Linked DNA regions of Homo sapiens: region 1 is linked to region 2. The links come from fine-mapping of genetic effects on gene expression. Tissue or cell type: putamen. Region 2 holds a variant in brackets; the other region holds the start of a gene. All regions are shown on one strand. Distances are between the middles of the regions.

What was found. PIP is the estimated chance that this variant, and not a neighbour inherited with it, causes the effect.
Region 1: it holds the start of EYA4-AS2, and the variant in region 2 is fine-mapped to the expression of EYA4-AS2 in putamen (GTEx, PIP above 0.99).

Annotation. Positions count from the first base shown.
Region 1 is chr6:133,452,546-133,461,373 of GRCh38, forward strand. It overlaps EYA4-AS2 (EYA4 antisense RNA 2), which reads right to left and starts at 4,060. Exons shown (of 3, transcript NR_199014.1): 1 at 3,989-4,060; 2 at 1,063-1,117; 3 at 140-501. It overlaps EYA4 (EYA transcriptional coactivator and phosphatase 4), which reads left to right. Exons shown (of 20, transcript NM_004100.5): 6 at 4,011-4,103; 7 at 8,569-8,635.
Region 2 is chr6:133,532,482-133,541,309 of GRCh38, forward strand. It overlaps TARID (TCF21 antisense RNA inducing promoter demethylation), which reads right to left. Exons shown (of 9, transcript NR_109982.1): 6 at 3,299-4,877. Among named protein-coding and RNA genes, the nearest start is that of EYA4-AS2, 80 kb to the left of the region's middle. The variant T/C (reference allele first, on the strand shown) is at 4,791.

The sequences.
Region 1 (8,828 bases), 80 kb before region 2:
GGCAGTAGGGATGAAGGTTGGGATGTGAAGACAGGAAATCTGTGATTTAGTAGCCATTACTGGTACCTGACAATAATTATGTATGACCTTGATTTAGTCTATAGATAAGAATTATTTTTAAAGCTAAAAAAATGGAAAAGCCAATCATGTATGTTTATTTATTTTTACCATTTGACTCTATCAGAAACATCCAAATTGCAAGTAGCTAACTAGTGGGGAGGGGGACCTGACAGTACAAGGATTTCTTAACGGTTCTCGACAAAGTGGTATAGAAAGTAATTTTATGCCACTTTTAGCAAAACGAGCTCTGACTCACTTACTTTGAAGATACAGAATAATAATCCCACAAAACTCTTCAACCTAGGACATTAAAATATTGTTTCTTTTGAAATCAAAACATTTGGTGTGTAAGCTTGCATTTGGTTGAGAAATACGGTGCTTGTCTTCTATAAAAGGATTTTGCTTCCATTTTATTGCATGTAATGATTTTGGTTTGCTGTCCTGAAAATTAAAAGCCCCATTTAAACTTCATGTTAATTTAAGAAAGACAAAATATAGCTTAACATACATTTGAACAGTCAAGGAATAGGCACTGATAATTATTTGGAATAAGGATTTTTACAAGTTAGTAGTAATAAGACTAGATTTGTCTTACTAATGAACATTTTTCCAATAGTGTCTTGCATATATTTAATGAAAGTTTCCTGCCACTAGAAAAGTATATAGTAGGTGTAATTTAAAGTGCAGAAACAAAAGCAAGATAAAAGAAAAAAGAATACATTTCAAATATATTTCTAGCTTCAGTGAAAATAACGTTGTTTTCCAAGCTTTATCTATAATTATTATATAATGTTTACTTTATACTAGTTAACTGTTATATAAATATCAAGATAATACTTCTTCGTATTCTAACATGTCTTAATAAATCAGCTAATAATATAAGGAGTGTCTATTCACTTCTCTATTTGAGCTTTCTACTGCTGAAAAAATAGTTGTTTATTATTACCTAATATTACTGCTTTTTATTTAGAAAAATCAAACCAAAATAACTTTGGGACTTACTTAGAGATCAAGAGGTGCTTGTTGATGCTCACTTAGTATGAATGCAGCTTATTTTCTGTGACAGAATAAATGTTTTATTTCTACTTTTCCATTTTGTTCTACCCTTGCATAGGAAAAACAATTTTACATTAACATGTACCACTTCCCCTCAAATGTTAGCATCCATTACTTTAAAATTCAGGCATTTTAGTAAAGCTAACACATCTTGCTTGTTACTCCTCTCTTCATATACTTTCCCAGGGATGGCTTTTCTCAGTAAAATGAACTTCCTTTGTCTATCTTTGACTAAAAGCAAACCTTTAAAATTTTAATGAGAGATGTTTCCAGTATAATGAATTAGACCAAAAACTCACTCTCTCCTTCTTCTTTCTCCTTTTGACCTCCCCAAACTTTCAAATTGAAGAGATTATAATCAAAATCAATACTAAGCTTTTGAAATTGGGTCTCAAAGTTGAAATTCAAAGTAACAAAACTAATCTTCATGTCTGGCTTCTAGACCAGTTTCGTTAGACACAGCTCACATTCTGCCACCTCCATTCGCAAGTAAAATCTATATTACAATTAGTATAATAAAGCTACTTTTGCAAATATTGTTCGTAGATATAGATATGCATAAATAGGAATTTAGCTGCAAGTAGAAGTCAGAAGCTCTGATAAACTGTTTCTTAGTTTTGCTGAAGGCTTTGGGCCATGACTTTTTGTCATAAATGTTAGAACTCAATTGTAAACATTGCGTGAAATGGAGTAGCCTTGATACCCATCTAGATTATACTCTGCATTATCTTCATACAGACAAAAGGAATTCTTGATTAGCTAGTGCTGCCTGAGAGGCAGTATGGTTTAAGAGTTTGGATTCTGAACACACACTACTTGGTCTCAAATTCTAGCTCTTACAAGCTTTGTGACTGGGGACGTTATTTAACCTTTTTGTGCCTCAGTTTCCTTATCTGAAAAATAAAGATGATGATATTATCTACTGACTGTTGAGAGGAGTAAATCAGTAGGTGTAAAGGACAAGAGAAGTGCCTGGAATGTATCAAGTTCATTTTAAGGGTGTGCTGTTACTGTTACCTAATTTCAAATTTGCTACTTCTTGATGTCTTTTAAAATATCCCATGAGGAAGAAATGGGAAACATGCCTTAGTATCCTATTCCAGTATTTTGCAGTTTTTATTTTCAGTGAAGTATTTTTAATTATTCTATCTAGGAGATAATTGCATTCTCATCATGCTTTGGGCCTTTGAGAAGAGACACTGTCATGAGCATAAGCTATTTTCGTACCTGAAGGCAGCCTGATACGGTGGAAAGATCCTGCATACTAGAGCTAAAAACCTGAGTTCAAATCTTAGCTCTACCGTCTCCTGCACTGGAACTTATGCAGGCTTTTCAGCCCCCCTGAACTTCAGTTTCCTTGTCTATAAAATGGTTATAGTGATTTGTATTAATTAGAGTTGTTTTAAGGATTAGCTAAATGTACATCATCTAGCACGTAGCAAGCTCTCAATAAGTATTAGTTTTATAGTAGTAAATATAAAGGTGATAAAATGATTTTATAATGATAGGTTTAGTTATTGATAAGGTATAACCATAATAGGGATTACTGTGCAAATTACTACTGAAAAGTAATAACCACCAATTCATTATTTATCATTATATAAATAATTAGACTACTCTTCAGATCATTGTTGCTCTTGAAAGATAAGTCAAACTTGAGTTTGCTTTTTTGCTAAGAAAAGTAATCCAAGTTTCTTTACTTTCTGTTTCCAACATTTACATTTCTCCTCTGAATCTTCCAGCTGATCATGTCATTAATAAATAATGGATACTAAATTAACCCAGAGCTCACTGAAGGTCTGGTTAATTCTGTTCATGTGGAAAAGAGCATAATCATTACCGCATGGTTTTCTATCAATTAATTTCTTTTCTAACAGAATAACATTACTGACTTGTGTGATTGGTGGGTACCCTATGACTGACTGTTCTTTTTTGTCCTTTGGCTAGTCTTCAGCTTTCTTCTTTATAATTTTCTGCTTGCTTCTAAGTTATTTAACTGTATCATTCATTTCACTTATGACCAGGAAACACAAGAGGTGTTAAGTAGAAAATAGCTTAGTTTATTTCCTTGCTGCTATGATATATGTAGTAAAGCCTTGCCAACAAAGGGAAAATATGGTGTGACCAAATGGGTAAAACTTTATTCTCACGCCCCATCACCCTTGTTGCATCTAATAATGATAATAATGTGTACTAGGCCACTTTGTTACCAAGCAAAGATTTTGCCAAAATACACCATTACCACGTAGAAATAACATATTAAAATGAGTTTTCAAAAGGTGTACTTGCTGCTGTAGAAGTCATCTCTTTTTCTACGCTTATCTCTAAACATATTAAAAATTGTTATGCCATTAAAGTATGAAGCCCAACACCTTATAGCTCGTGAGTCTTTTTTAGAGCTTCATTGAGTGCTTCATTTTTCATTCATTGTGTGAATGAGCCCATGGTTTCTATACTTTTATATGTCTCCATTGTATTATTATGCAAACTTAAAAAATATCTTCCTGGGAAAAATAAAATATAAGCTAGTAAATTTCTTTGGTATAATTTTAATTAAATGTGCTGAAGACTGATGATGATTCCTTCTTTCCTATTGACTATATGAGAGTGTGTTTAGGTGAATTAAAAATACAAATATGTGTACTGCTGTTTCACTTTTTAAGGCTGACTGCCTTTAAAAGCTGGATTTGAGAGAACTAGCTTGGCCAGAGGATTTTAGATTAAATCCTCTAAATGCATGCCCGTTTAGAAGCTAAATTAACAAACTCTCTTCATCAACTTCTCAGGTTTTCTCTTGCATGCCCATGGTAGCTAGAAATATCACTAGTAGAACGGACAGAGTCTTTGACATAAATTTAGAAGTAAAACTCACATGTACTTATTCTTCTACGTAGTGTCTCTTCTTGCAGTCAAAACAGAGCCCTTGAACAGCAGTGAAACCACAGCCACGACTGGAGATGGAGCGCTTGACACTTTTACTGGGTCAGGTAAAGCCTTTAGCTCGTGTGTCCTTACGTACACATGGGGGTGCATCCACATCCTCCTCCTCGGGAATAAGCAACATAAGCATCCAAGCTCTTAGAACTTTGATCCTTATAAAGTTAGAAACAAATTCTTATTTTTTGAGAACTCATAGTCATAGCAGTATGCATTGTTATAAATTATATTTAGAATAATTTCGCTTGATATTTTAGTTGACAGCAAAAGTCCCATGACTTTCTTATTATGGATAAGTAAACTTAACTTCCTTCAAAATTATTTTATACGATGTTTAATTAATTTAATAATTAAGTTGTAGTAGCTGACCTTGCTTCTTCAACTTACCCATTTGAATTACATAAAAACTGCCTTCTGTTTAACATTCGAGATGTAAAACTATCCATTTGATTCCTTCTAAATAACCTTGTTTCCTCTCTGGGTTTAAAAAACTCCTCCTGTGTAAGCAGCTGAGTGACAAGTATTAAAGGTTAATGGGCTGCAGGAGAGCACATGCTGGTTGCATTAGAACCCAGCCTCTGAGAGCGCTCGAATGCTTCAAAGAGAACAATAGCATGTCTTTAAACATCAATCCCTTTAAAATATAAATACCTGATAACTCCCAGCTGGGCACAAAGGGCATGAATTAAGTAGACTTAATTAAATTTTTTTAAGTTACAATATTTCTTCGGCTTTTTATCTGGTGAAAGGATTTTTCTAACCTGAGGAGGATCGGGTACATCAGAAAGAAGAACATTAAACCTAGGAAAGTATTTGTGGTAATTGAATCTCGGTTCTGTTATTCTACTTTAATACATTTTACATTTATCCATGTGCTCATGTTATAAGGATTTTTTTGTCAGTATGTTTTGTGTAAAAATAGTTGAGATATGTCTTAGAGTATTATGTCATTATAGCATATATTTGATTTTTACAGATGATCTAATTTCACTAGTTCACACCGATTAGAAGCAGTTGCCATATATTTACATAAATATTAGTACTCCAAGAAAGAAATAATAGTACATAAACTTTGCACAGAGACTCATATGTACTAATCCACATCTTTTCTAGCAGTTTACCTGCCTCTCAGGAGATAGTTACCAGTTCAGTATTCTGTATTGCACACTTACCATAGCTTTTGTAAACTTTCTGCAAAATAAATCTATATGAACAAATTGTTAAGGAAAGGAATGGAGTTATTAACTTATTGCTGACCTACTTCAGTAGTATACTACAAGTTAATTGAAAGCTGAATGACAAAACTATAAAGTGTTAGCTCCAGAAGGAATTTCAGAGCTCTCTGATCCGTTTTGTAGACAAGAGAAGTTAAAAGTGGTTAAGGCCATACAGTCAAGGCCTCACAGCTGGTCAGTGGTATAAACAAATCTAAAACCATGTCCTTATGATCAGTCCCTGGGTCCTTTCTGTAATGCCCCATCAGAAAATAGATGGAAAAAGAAATAGGCATGAACAATCATCCTGTCTGAAATTCACTCATATTGTCTTTGTAGATATTTTCGCAAATTTTTAAAGAAGTATCTAGGGACGTGCTGTCCAGTAAGGTAGCCACCAGTCATATGTGGTTATTAAAATTTGATAAAATTAAAAATTTTGTTTTTTATTTTCATTTTCACAGCAATATTGCAGTAAGTATATTTTTATTAATTGATTTTGAAAATCATCAAGTACGACTAGAGGCGTTAAGTTCTCAATATTTTCAGCAACCAAAATTTAACTGAATTTTCAAGTTTAAACACATTTCAAGTGTTTAACAGCTGCATGTGGTTAGCAGCTACCATATTGGACAGCTCAGATACAGAACATTTCCAACACTGTGGAAAGTTTTATTCCACAGCAGTGATCCAGGGCAGGGATTATCAACATCAGCACTGTTAAAGACTTGGGCTAATTCTTTAGTGTGGGAAAGCTATCCTCTGCACTGTAAGATGTTTGGCTGCATCTATCCCAGAATGCCAGCAGCACTCCCCCAGATGCTTCTTTACTAAAGAAGCAACCAAAGATGTCTTACTAAAGACAACCAAAAATGTATCCAGACTGTTTAAGTGTCCCCTGGCAGGCAAAATTCTCACCCCCACCCACTTCTCATCCCATTGAGAGTCACCAATCTAAGATGGCACGATAATGAGAATGAAACCTTAAAATTGCTTTGACACCATCAGAGAAACTGACAATAGATATTAAACATGTATTTAAATTAATTTTCAGGGCATTTTGAAAACAAGCAGTTTTGCTTACTGTTGTATGCAGAAATGATGGAATGTAATGAGTGTTTTGGGTAATGTTTATGATTAATCAGATGACAGTGGGGAATAAAACGAAATTCTTTCAAGTTTGTACAAGATATTCCAGAAACCATTCTGGAAATGAGGCTGCCCTTTGTGGGAGCAGTCTTTACTTTGATCTGCAAAATTTCCACTCACTTTAATCCAATTTTGTTGTTCTTTTCAGTTATCTGCAAATTTCTGAATTAGAACAAAATGTATATATTTTAGTAAAGAAGCATAAACTTTCCTACGTGAACATCGTAGTTTTCTGAGCCAAAGGTTTTCTGTTCTATTTAGAAAATGAACATATAGACGTTAATAGAAATTTGTAAAGGTTAGTTGAGGCTTTATAGTGTTGTGAGTACATTATTCTAATGATGTTTAGATTTATCATTAGAAGAAACATCCTATATATTCAGAATTGAGTTCATGTATATGAGTTTTTTCTGAAATGTGTAATTTTGGTCTATGTCTTATTTATAAAAGGTTACTATAATGAATATTTATCTTCATGATTCAGCGTCTCTTTGGAAAAGCCTTCTATTTCACAATATTGATAATAACTGATGAGTATAGCCCAAGTCTTGAGTGTACCAAGGAGAAATTCTGTAAAGAAGAGACGAAAGAATATTTAATCAAGCGTCATTTAACTATATTTCTGTTAGAGTATTTGGTATTGTTAATCGATAAATTAGAATGAATATCTTTGGAATAACACTACTATTATGAAGTGCACATTTAATGTCCATTGTGTAGTAGAACAAAGAGTCTGTTTTCATTAAGTTGATTTGAAAATTTAAAACGTTCTTTAAGTTTTGATAAATATGTAGAAAAGTAATAGTTTATTGGTCAATTTATTTTCAACGATACGTATCAAATTCAGTTAAATTCTGGTTGCTGAAAATATTTAGAAGTAACACCTTTAGTCAAATTTGATGATTTTCAAAATTGACTGATAATATTCTTAAAAATATACTTACTTCATTATCGCTATGAAAATGAAAATATTCTTTCCATATTCAGAGCTTATAGGCAAAATAGCATTTTAAACACATTAAATGATGCATGTTTGTGAAGCAGATCACAAGGGTTCTTGTGATATATATAGAAATATATCATGTTTCATAAAATAGTTAGCAACCTAAACCTATTTGTCACTTTTACAATTCTAAAAGTTTCGCTCCAGAATTATTATGAACAACTCAGAAAGGACATAGTACTTTGAAGTATAACTATGATTGATTAGACTAAACTAATTCCAGCACTGCATTGTGTACTACTTTAATCTTTTTGAAAAGTGAATGAACAGCAGATGGCCTAATAAAGACACTCTGTGTGCTCGCTCAGTGTGGATTGGCTCTAAGGGAACTGGCTCACACTTTAGAGTCCATATATTTGCAAAACATCTGTCTTAGTCAAGGCAGATAGTTAAAGGAAAGAGAAACTTCCAAGCTATTGGATATATTCCAGTTTGGGGCTCCATGTTTGGATGAACTGTTAATAGGACCTCACTTTCACCTTTAAGTTCTTCTCAGAAAAGTATTATCTCTAATAGTTCAAAGTATATTTGTAAATGTAATTGCTACTGCATTTTGTGATTATGTTTTAAAGAAATCACCTGCACTTTCTTTAATTATTACTGGAATATTTTAGACTGCATTTTTTAATTGTTCATCTGATGGGTAAAATGAGAGGAAATAGAATAAAATAGTATTTTACCATTAGAAAATGAAGTTTGGAACATCACAGTCTTATTTTGTATTGTATTTGAATTAGAACAGATATGGAGGAAGAGCAATATGTATATATTGCCATCATATTTGGTATTTTAAAATGTAAAGTTTGCAAATTTTAAAAATTTACTTTTATATTTTGAAAGCTTAATTACCCTATAATCAAAGATATTTATTCATAGCATATTAATATATAAGAGCATGCTAATGATTTGAGAAACTGGAAGAATGACAGAGGGAATGATTTGTGAGACAAATGTTTATTTCATGCTTTTTGCACAAAACTCAAAGCAGTTTAATTAGGAGAAAGTGTTTAGGCAGCTGTTTCCTTTTAGAAAATGAATTTCTGGAAACATGTATTTAACATGGTAATTTCTTCAAATTGGTTATGTACACTCTAGTGAAATGTATTTATGAAGCAACCTTTGGTGCACTGGTATTTTTGTGTCTTACAGTAATTACAAGTAGTGGCTACAGCCCCAGATCAGCACATCAGTATTCCCCACAGCTGTATCCTTCCAAGTAAGTGGTCAGTAGATTCTTGCTTTAAATTGGCAAACATTTATGTCTATACATGTTTTATAGATGGTTGGATAATACTTGGATAGATTACATATATAGATAAATATCCTGTACAAATTTGAAATGGAGACACCCACATGTATCTTGATGATTCCCTTGAATATTTATGTATACCTTGAGAAAAATATCAAGC
Region 2 (8,828 bases):
CTTCCAAGAGGATAAAAAGGTAGTTTTCTGTAACAGATTTAATAGCTCCTTTATTGTCTGGTGTATAGTATTTATTTATTTGTGAATCTGTTGTTCACATGTAAACCAAATGCAAATTTCAGATAAACCTCTGCTCATTCACAACCTTTAAAAATGTTAGCCTCCAAATTAATGGTATTTAAGTGGAGCTATGTGGCAACATTCTAGTAAGCCTTACACCATCCAAAAATCAATACTGATTTACAGGAAAACAATGGAAATGTTTAAAATAAATTTAATATGTAAACTTCTTTTGTTTTCTCTTATATCCAGTTGCCATTGAAATTGAATTTATGAGAAAGACTAAATTATACATATCGTATTCCAGCTCCCCACTGAACTCCAAACAAATGTATCTTGTTTGCCTATTTATATACCTGCTTGGAAGAAACGACCTCTCAAATCAACATGTCCAAATCTGAGCTTGTGCTTCTGCGCCGGCCTCTTCTCACCTCTCCCACGACTACCACCCCAGCTGAAACCAGCATCCTTTCTCACATAGATAAGTACATCAGCCTCTAGCTTAGTCTCCCTTCTCTGGCCCTCACACCCTTTCACCATCTCATCACACTAGCCAGAAACATACCGTGCATCAGAGGATATCTCTCTCCTCTTCTTGGAAACCACCAGCTCGCTTGGCACAAACACCAGTGACCTTTGCAATGGCCTGTAAGCCCACAGGCAGCATCCCTGGTGAGCTCTCCCTTCCTCTGTCTCACAACTCACTGCCAAACTGGCACCTCCGTGTTTGGCACATACCTGCACCCACCCACCTGCTGCAGGCCTTTTGCACTCACCATTCCTTCCACTTGAAAAGGTTTTCACCCAGATCTTTGCATCACCTATGCCCTGGGTTTCTTCAGTTCTTAAAGAACACCTTTTTGCTGTAAAGGTCCTCCTCTCTGAAATTGCACCTGCTTCCCAACACCTCTAGCATTTTCCTTCTTTACTAAGAAAAAATACTTAGTTCTTAGATTAATCCAGCATGATACACATTTATTTTTTGTGTTGTTGATTCATCCATTACAATGTATAAACTTCAGGAAAACACTTGCATGAGCATGATCTAGAATTGAAGAGATTTAAAGTGGTAGAGGACCATGTGTGATGGCTCATTCCTATAATCCCAGCACTTTGGGAGGCCGGTGGGAGGATCACTTGAGTTCAGGAGTTCAGGACCAGCCTGGGCAACATAGAGAGACCCTGTCTCTCTCTCTGTCTCTCTTTTTCTAATAGCCAGATGTGATAGTGCGTGCCTGTAGTCCCAGCTACTCATGGTGCCAAGACGGGAAGATCGCATGAGCCTGGGAGGTGGAGGCTGCAGCGAGCTGTGATCACGCCACTGCACTCTAGCCTGGAAGACAGAGCAAGACTCTGTCTCAAAAAAAAAAAGAAAAGAAAAGAAATGATCGAGCTAGATTTGAAAGGGAAAAGGAGAGAAGAAAACATACACAGGACCTGTGTAAGTTTTTATACCTTAGCTGGAGTATTTGCTGGCCTAATTTATGGAAATAAAGAACAAGGATGGCCATAAGCAAAGATGTAATTGAAGAAAGGTTGTATGTGACCTGAGAATGATCGTCTGGATAAAAAACGTTTACAATGAATCAGCGATTGCCTCCTTTATACTCCCTTTTTCCCTTTCATAAAAGAAAAAGTATGCAATATTAGTAGGCTTAATTGACTTACATTACTTAAAGCCACACACAAACAAACATGTAAAAATCAGATCTCTCTGCAAACTGTGGTTCATGATTCTGAGTCCCTGAAACAAACAACAACAAAAAAAATTTTAAGTGTCGGATGTTGTTTAGTTACCAAAAGAGAACCATTTATTTTTTGATCCAGGGTCTTGCTTTGTTGCCCAGGCTGAAGTGCAGTGGCACCATCATAGCTCACTGTAACCTCGAACTCCTGGACTCAAGCAATCCTCCTGCCTCAGACTCCGAAAGTGCTGAGATTACAGGTGTGAGCCACTGCACCCAGACTAATAACCATTATTTAACATCTCTGCATGGTTTTGTATATTCTTTAAAAGTTATTGGATGTAATTCTGGCAAAGTATGCATGTGTGCTAATACACAGGTCGCTACACAAAGCAGTCTACATTTGACTGTGCCAGAGTCAATTCTTGAGATATACTGCAATCAACAAAGATGCCCTCTCAGAGCCTCAAGGGGAAAATGTTCATTGTGCCCAAGTTCTGACTTTCAATGGAAATAGTAGCCATTATTCCTTAGCTTTTCCTTCATCCACAGAACCTTCCAGGTCTGTGTTAGCACACAGTTTGAAAGATCTCCAAATGTAATATGCTAAAGGATCTCTGACAATGCATATAACTCCATATAAGCCAGATGACTATTTTCCCTCCCAACAAAATGCCTTTTGATTGCAGCTTGCAGGGACAGTGTCTCTATGGCTAAAGGGCAATGCATTGTCCTTTGTGGTCATGAAATCTTAGATTTGTGTGCCTTATGTCTGCTATGATGCTGCCATTTTAGTTTTCTGGTGAGCCTTCAGTGAAAATACATAGAATTGAAAGAGGGTGTACTGGAAAAGGTAGAGGGACCACCAAGTAAATCATCCTCCACAGAACCACAGCAGAGTACTGCTGACCCTAAACTCATCACAGTCCTGACCCTTAAGGTTCTTATGCTTTTCAATCGGGGTGACTCTTAAGATAACGAATGAAGGGTGTTAGCAGGGGATAAGCACAGGGGCATGGTGAGTCACTTGCAGAGAAACCTAACCAGCCCTTAAAGGGAAGATTCTTGGAGAAAATGAGTCCAAAGCTGAAGCCCCAAGGACAAAACCGAGAAGGCCAGAGCATTTGCAGGACTGGATTGGAAGCATATAAGCAAAGTGGAAAATATGTAAGAGAATGCAGGTAAGAGGGAGAAGGGTAGAATGGTGTAGTCAGGGAACTGCAAGTAATTCTTGTTTCTGAAGCATGGAGTGAATAAAAGGAATAGTAAGAAATGAGACTGAAAAAAAAACAAGGGCCACTTGGTGAGGATTTTTAATACAGCATCAACCAATTTCAGTTTTACTCGGGTATCAGTAGGTACTGAATGAAAGGTTTGTTAACAGAGGATTTATGTGTCCCAGTTTATATCTTATAATAGTTACTCTGGCCAGGCTGAGGAGAGTGAGGGATCTAAGAGGCTGGTGCAGGATCCTGGAGAGATTCCTGAATTAGGTGATGGGCATGAATATGAGACAGTGCATAGATTCAAAGAAATTAGGGTATTAAGAATACCTTAGTACTTCGCAGTGGTTGCTTCTTCACCTCATGTCCTCAGGAAAATCCAGCCTGACCTCTAGGTTTCTGGCTCGGGCAGTTTGGTAGATTGTAGTGCAGTTTGCCGAGATGAGAAACACAAAAGAAGTAAAAAGATTCTACTTGCTGTTTTTATTGTAGTGGGTGATGCTTGTTGTTGGAACGAGATACTGAGACCAGTTTCTGGAATTGTTAATTTGAAGGTGGTGGTATCCTCAAATGGAGTTGTCCAATGCAAAGTTGAATTTGTAGTAACTTCACTATTGTCTGTTAAATACCTTGCCAAGTCATAACTGAATTACTCGGAGCACAGTAAATAAAACCCTAAGTAATTTGATTATGTCACATCAGTTAATGATTTAAAATCACTTACAATTTGTGCAAACTTGAGACAGCATAGTGGAAAAGCTAGGAATGATGACAGTAATACAGTGTGTGCATGGCTGATGAACACCATGGAAAATTATTTGGGGTCACCAGTTGATTTAACATCATGCTTTCCCATCTCCTGCATTACCCCAATTTCCAGTAGATAAAGTAGTAACATACCTGGATTTACAACCCTGAAGAAATCCAAATGCCTCTATGAGCTTTTCATCAGTAACTTTTGTACAAAAAAGTCATCGCCAGCTTATGTCTGCTTGGAAACCAATATGGCATTCTAATTTATTTCCCAAAGAAAACATTAAAGAGCTTCACAGCAGAATGACAGATGATTTAATCACCTATTTTTAGACAGATTAATGTATTCCAAAAAAATGTGGTGATCATTAAAACATACATTTATGGTGGAATAAACTATTTCATAAGAGCGGGCAGTAATATCTGGTACGTGAATAGGAAATAAAGTTAATGCCAAACACACACGTATAAAACCATCCTGTTTGGCTCATGAAATTATTTCTACATCAGTTATGAGAACAGCAGGAGGGTGGGATGGAGCCACTGATGAGGGCAGTGAAGAAAAAGTGGTATAACATCATCTTTTAAACTTTCATCTACAGTTTTACAAATGATGAGTGCATCTTCTAAATTTTCATCACCCACTGATTTTCTGAATAAAACCTACTACCACAAACTGGCCACTTTTGGCAACACATATTGTTGCCATGCATGACTCAAGAATTCGTTTTAAAGAAGAGAAAAGGGAATGTTTTTCTTATTTCTGTCTAGGCAGAATGGGGATATTTATCCATGTTCCTTCTTCTTATCCTTGAAGGCCCTGTAATTGTTTTATTCATCCAACCACAGCACCATCTTCTGGGCACAGAAGCTGGTACCACTGTAGCAAGATGGGGAATGGGAGCATGTAGGATGTGATGCTTTGATTCAGTCACTCGCTCTGTAGCCAGCTTTTCAGCGAGCATACTGAAAAGAGGAAGGAAACTAACGTTTGAAGAGACTAATCAAACTAACATTTGAAGAGGCTAATCAACTAATGAAGAGACTAATCAATGCTTACCTTACCATA[T/C]ATTACCTGATTTAATTATAACACCCACGAGAGTCAGTGTTCTTAGTCCAATTGTATAGTTGAAGTGACCTCCCAAGATTATACAACCTGTAGGTAGCACAGACAGAATTGGAACTTAGTCCATTAGGTGGAAATTATCTGGACTGCAAAATAGGCTCATTGCACCATATCTTCTGTCCATTGACTTCAGTTGAGTTGTTTAGCACTTGAAGGGGTATGATCTGAGGGAAAGTGCCATCAAGAGCAGGTGAGATTGCAAGCAATGGAGTTAACTGTCACTGTTTTTTCTCTCTGTGAATATAATTGCCATCCAAGTAACTCCTGTGTTGCCTATGTGAGAAATGGCCTTTATGTAGTAGGAATGTTAGTTCTGCAGATAAGCAGTAAAAGGACCCTAAGCTGATTATTTGACTTGATGATTGGAATTATATCCAGTCCTATATGAAGGCCCAAGAGATAACTATTCAATTAAAGCTGCTCAATTAATTTGCATTTAAGTTAAGATACATTTTGCAGATTCCTCCCTTTTAAAACACCTTTAAGCATGCATATCAACTGCTCTTAATACAACAGACTTACAGGCTCCCTAACCTACAGCATGGTTCCAAGAAGGGTACTGGACAGGCTTCTGATTAGAGTGGGGAATTAGGAAGGTTCTGGGGCCACCTAATATAGGAAAAATAAACCATGATGGAGCATTGAGTCAGCATGATTTATGATTTTAGGAGTATCTGAATGGAAGATGTTCAGAAGCAAGTTCCTAAAGGGTAAGTGGAGAAAAGCTATGTAGCCAAGTTTACCTCTTTTCTGAAATTCTATAGTGGAGATGATTTTTTTTTTTTTTTTTTTTTTGAGACGGAGTCTTGTTCTGTCACCAAACTGGAGTGCAGTGGCGCAATCTCAGCTCGCTGCAACCTCCGCCTAGTGGAGATGATTTTTTTTTTTATTATTGTGGTAAAATACAGATAAAGGTAACGATCTTAACCATTTTTAAGTGTACAGTCAATGGCATTAAGTACATCCACATTGTTGTGCTGCTGTCACCACCATCCATCCACAAAACTCTTTTCATCTTCTAAAACTAAAACTCTACCCATTGAACAATAACTTCCCATTCTCCTCTCCCCTTAGTACCTTGTAGCAACTCCTCCACTTTCTGTCTCTACGAATTTGACTACTTGAAGTACCTCATATAAACAGAATCATATAGTATTTGTCCTTTTGTGACTGGCTGATTTCATTTAACAAAATTTCTTTCAGGTTCTCCTGTTTTGTAGCCTATGTTAGAATTTTCTTCCTTTTTAAGGCTGACTAATAATATGTGTGTATACTATATTTTGTTTCTCTATTTTTCCATTGATGGGCATTTAGGTTGCCTCTACCTTTTGGCTCTTGCAAATAATGATGCTATGAACATGGGTATACAAATAACTGGGTCCCTGCTTTAAGTTCTTTTGGATATGTACCCAGAAGTGGAATTGCTGGATCTTGTGTAATTCTATGTTTAATTTTTTGAGGAACTACCATACTTGCCATACTTTCTATGGCAGCCACACCACTTTACATTTCTAACAATAGTGTGCAAAAATTCCTTTTCTTCACATCTTCACCAACACTTGTTATTTTCTGTTTGTTTTTTATAGTAACCATGCTAATGGGTGTGAGGTGATATCTTATTGTGGTTTTAATTTGCATTTACCTAATGATTATGGCATATTGGCCATTTGTATATCTTTGGAGAAATGTCAATTCAATCATTTGCCCATGTTTTAATTGGGTTGTTTTTGTTGTTGTTGTTGAATTGTATATTCTGGATATTAACTCCTCATCAGATACAAGATTTGCAGACATTTTCTCCCATTCCTTGGGTTACCATTTCCATAGTAAACTTGACTTTTGTGTGTATACAAAGCATCCCTCTTTTTAGGGAACACCATACTCCTGGGCATATGGCTGAACCCTAGCCAATCAACATATTCCACCCTCTTTGTCATATTTATTTGCCCAAGAATGGGCTCAGGACCCAAGCTAAGCCTATGAAAACTCACCCCAAGACTTTTCTCCAAAGTCATTATGAAAGATGCACTGTCTTTCTGGGATTAGGATCTCTGGTGACTATGTCAGCCTAAAATGCCAGAACCATCTTTCCTACCACATTGAGAGAGAATCTGAATATGAAGCCAACATGTGGGAAACAGCTCAGAACCCATGCCCTGTTGATGCTGTCAGAGAATTTGGTTTTAGGATGTCAGGAGACAGAACTTCAACTCAGTGACCATGCCTGGAATTTCTAGTTTTGTAAGCCCAAAACTTTTTTATTCTTTTTTCCTTGAACTTGATTGACTTTAGTTTCTGTCATCTGTGGTCAAGAGAGTATGCATGAATGTCCAGTTGGAAATGTTAATTCTTGGAACCAGCAGCTCAAAGCATGCCCTCTAGTCAGTGCTTAGGATTGATTAGAATAAAAGATGTTAAAGAAGAAAGGATGTTGGAGTCGATTACTCAAATTATAAAAAGTGAGTTTGGGACTCCTGACTGTGTTATTCCCTAGGTCTTCTGCTCTTTCCAGCTATATAGTGGCCAAGACATGTGAGACTAGGAAGAGATGGATAGTTATTTATAAGGAAAGGGGCTTCAAATGTCTCACAATAGTTTAACATTGTTACTTTAAAATATTTTCCCCTCTAAACTGTGGTGCTTTGGATGAATCCTGGCACCTCACTCTGTGTCACCCTGCGATTTGGCCACACCTCTTAAGAACACAGATATCCAGGACTAGAATTGCAGTGCTCCATCTGTTTCTTGCATTCCAGCGCCATCCCATAACCACATCAAATTATCTGTGAAATGCAATTTAGAACTCACTTAGTGAATAGGATGCCACATCCTATGACCACTCCTTAATTTTTCTTCTTTGGAAAAATGTGTGACCTATAACCCTGACCTATGACAGTTCCACCCATAGGCAAGCAATGTGTTAAATAGAAAGGGCACTGCTGAATCACGTTAAGCCTCCAACATTCTGCTTAACAGGACTAGCGTAGTAGTTAGGAGTGTATAGGTGTTCCTTTTCTCCCATTTCTAATGTAACTCCAATACACCCATACTGGCACGCATACTGAGAGCTTATTTACCATGCTTTTTGATCAACTATAACTTTTTTTTAAATAACTAAATGATAAATTCTAAAAATAAGAGTTTCTATTGCAACAACAGACAAGACCTTAGTGCTAGAAAGCACATCATCATGTCAATGGAACAACAAATCATGAGCTTGACAGTAATGAAGCTGTTGCTGAGACATTTGTCTGTCTTTTTACAGGGCAATAATTCAAGTTTGAAGGCACGTATTTATTTAACGTTATGTCTAGGAATAAGTTGCCTTCCTAGCCTGAAATTTCTTTCTTTACCCAATGACAAAATTGTACATAATTAATGAGTGCATTCATTGTGTTTTGTTTTTTTAAAAAAATGGTCTAGCAAAATTTCCTTCTGAACATTTAGTTTAATCATGTTTATTAACTACAAACCGTGAGGTACTTGCCAACTCTGACCATAAAATGTTCTATTCTGAGGCTGTCTCTCTGTTTCTGAGGAGAATAAGAAGTCAAATGTCTTGAAAATAACCAATCCCATCCTGAGAAAACCTTCTAGTTACTTTCTCTCCTCGGATTTTGTTTTTTTAATTAAAACAAGCTAAAGTGAAATAAATAAAACAAAATGATCTGTAATGGTGGAGGCAAGTGGAATGAAAGTACATTTTCCATTCAAAACAATGTACACATGAATGTTTAAATTCATCAGCCTTTCACTGTGTAATAATGTGACATGTTTACAGTGTTGAAGGAAATCAGGTGTTTTCATGCTAAATGAAAATAAAATTTATGTACTGTTATTACCATATTCTTTGCCTGGTGTTTCTCACTCTATTCATCATTAAAGGCTGCTCAATAAATACTGTGCTAACTGCCTGTGTGGATGTTATGCAGTAATAACTCAGAATAACCATAAATAACCACCCACCAGCGCCTTGGGGAG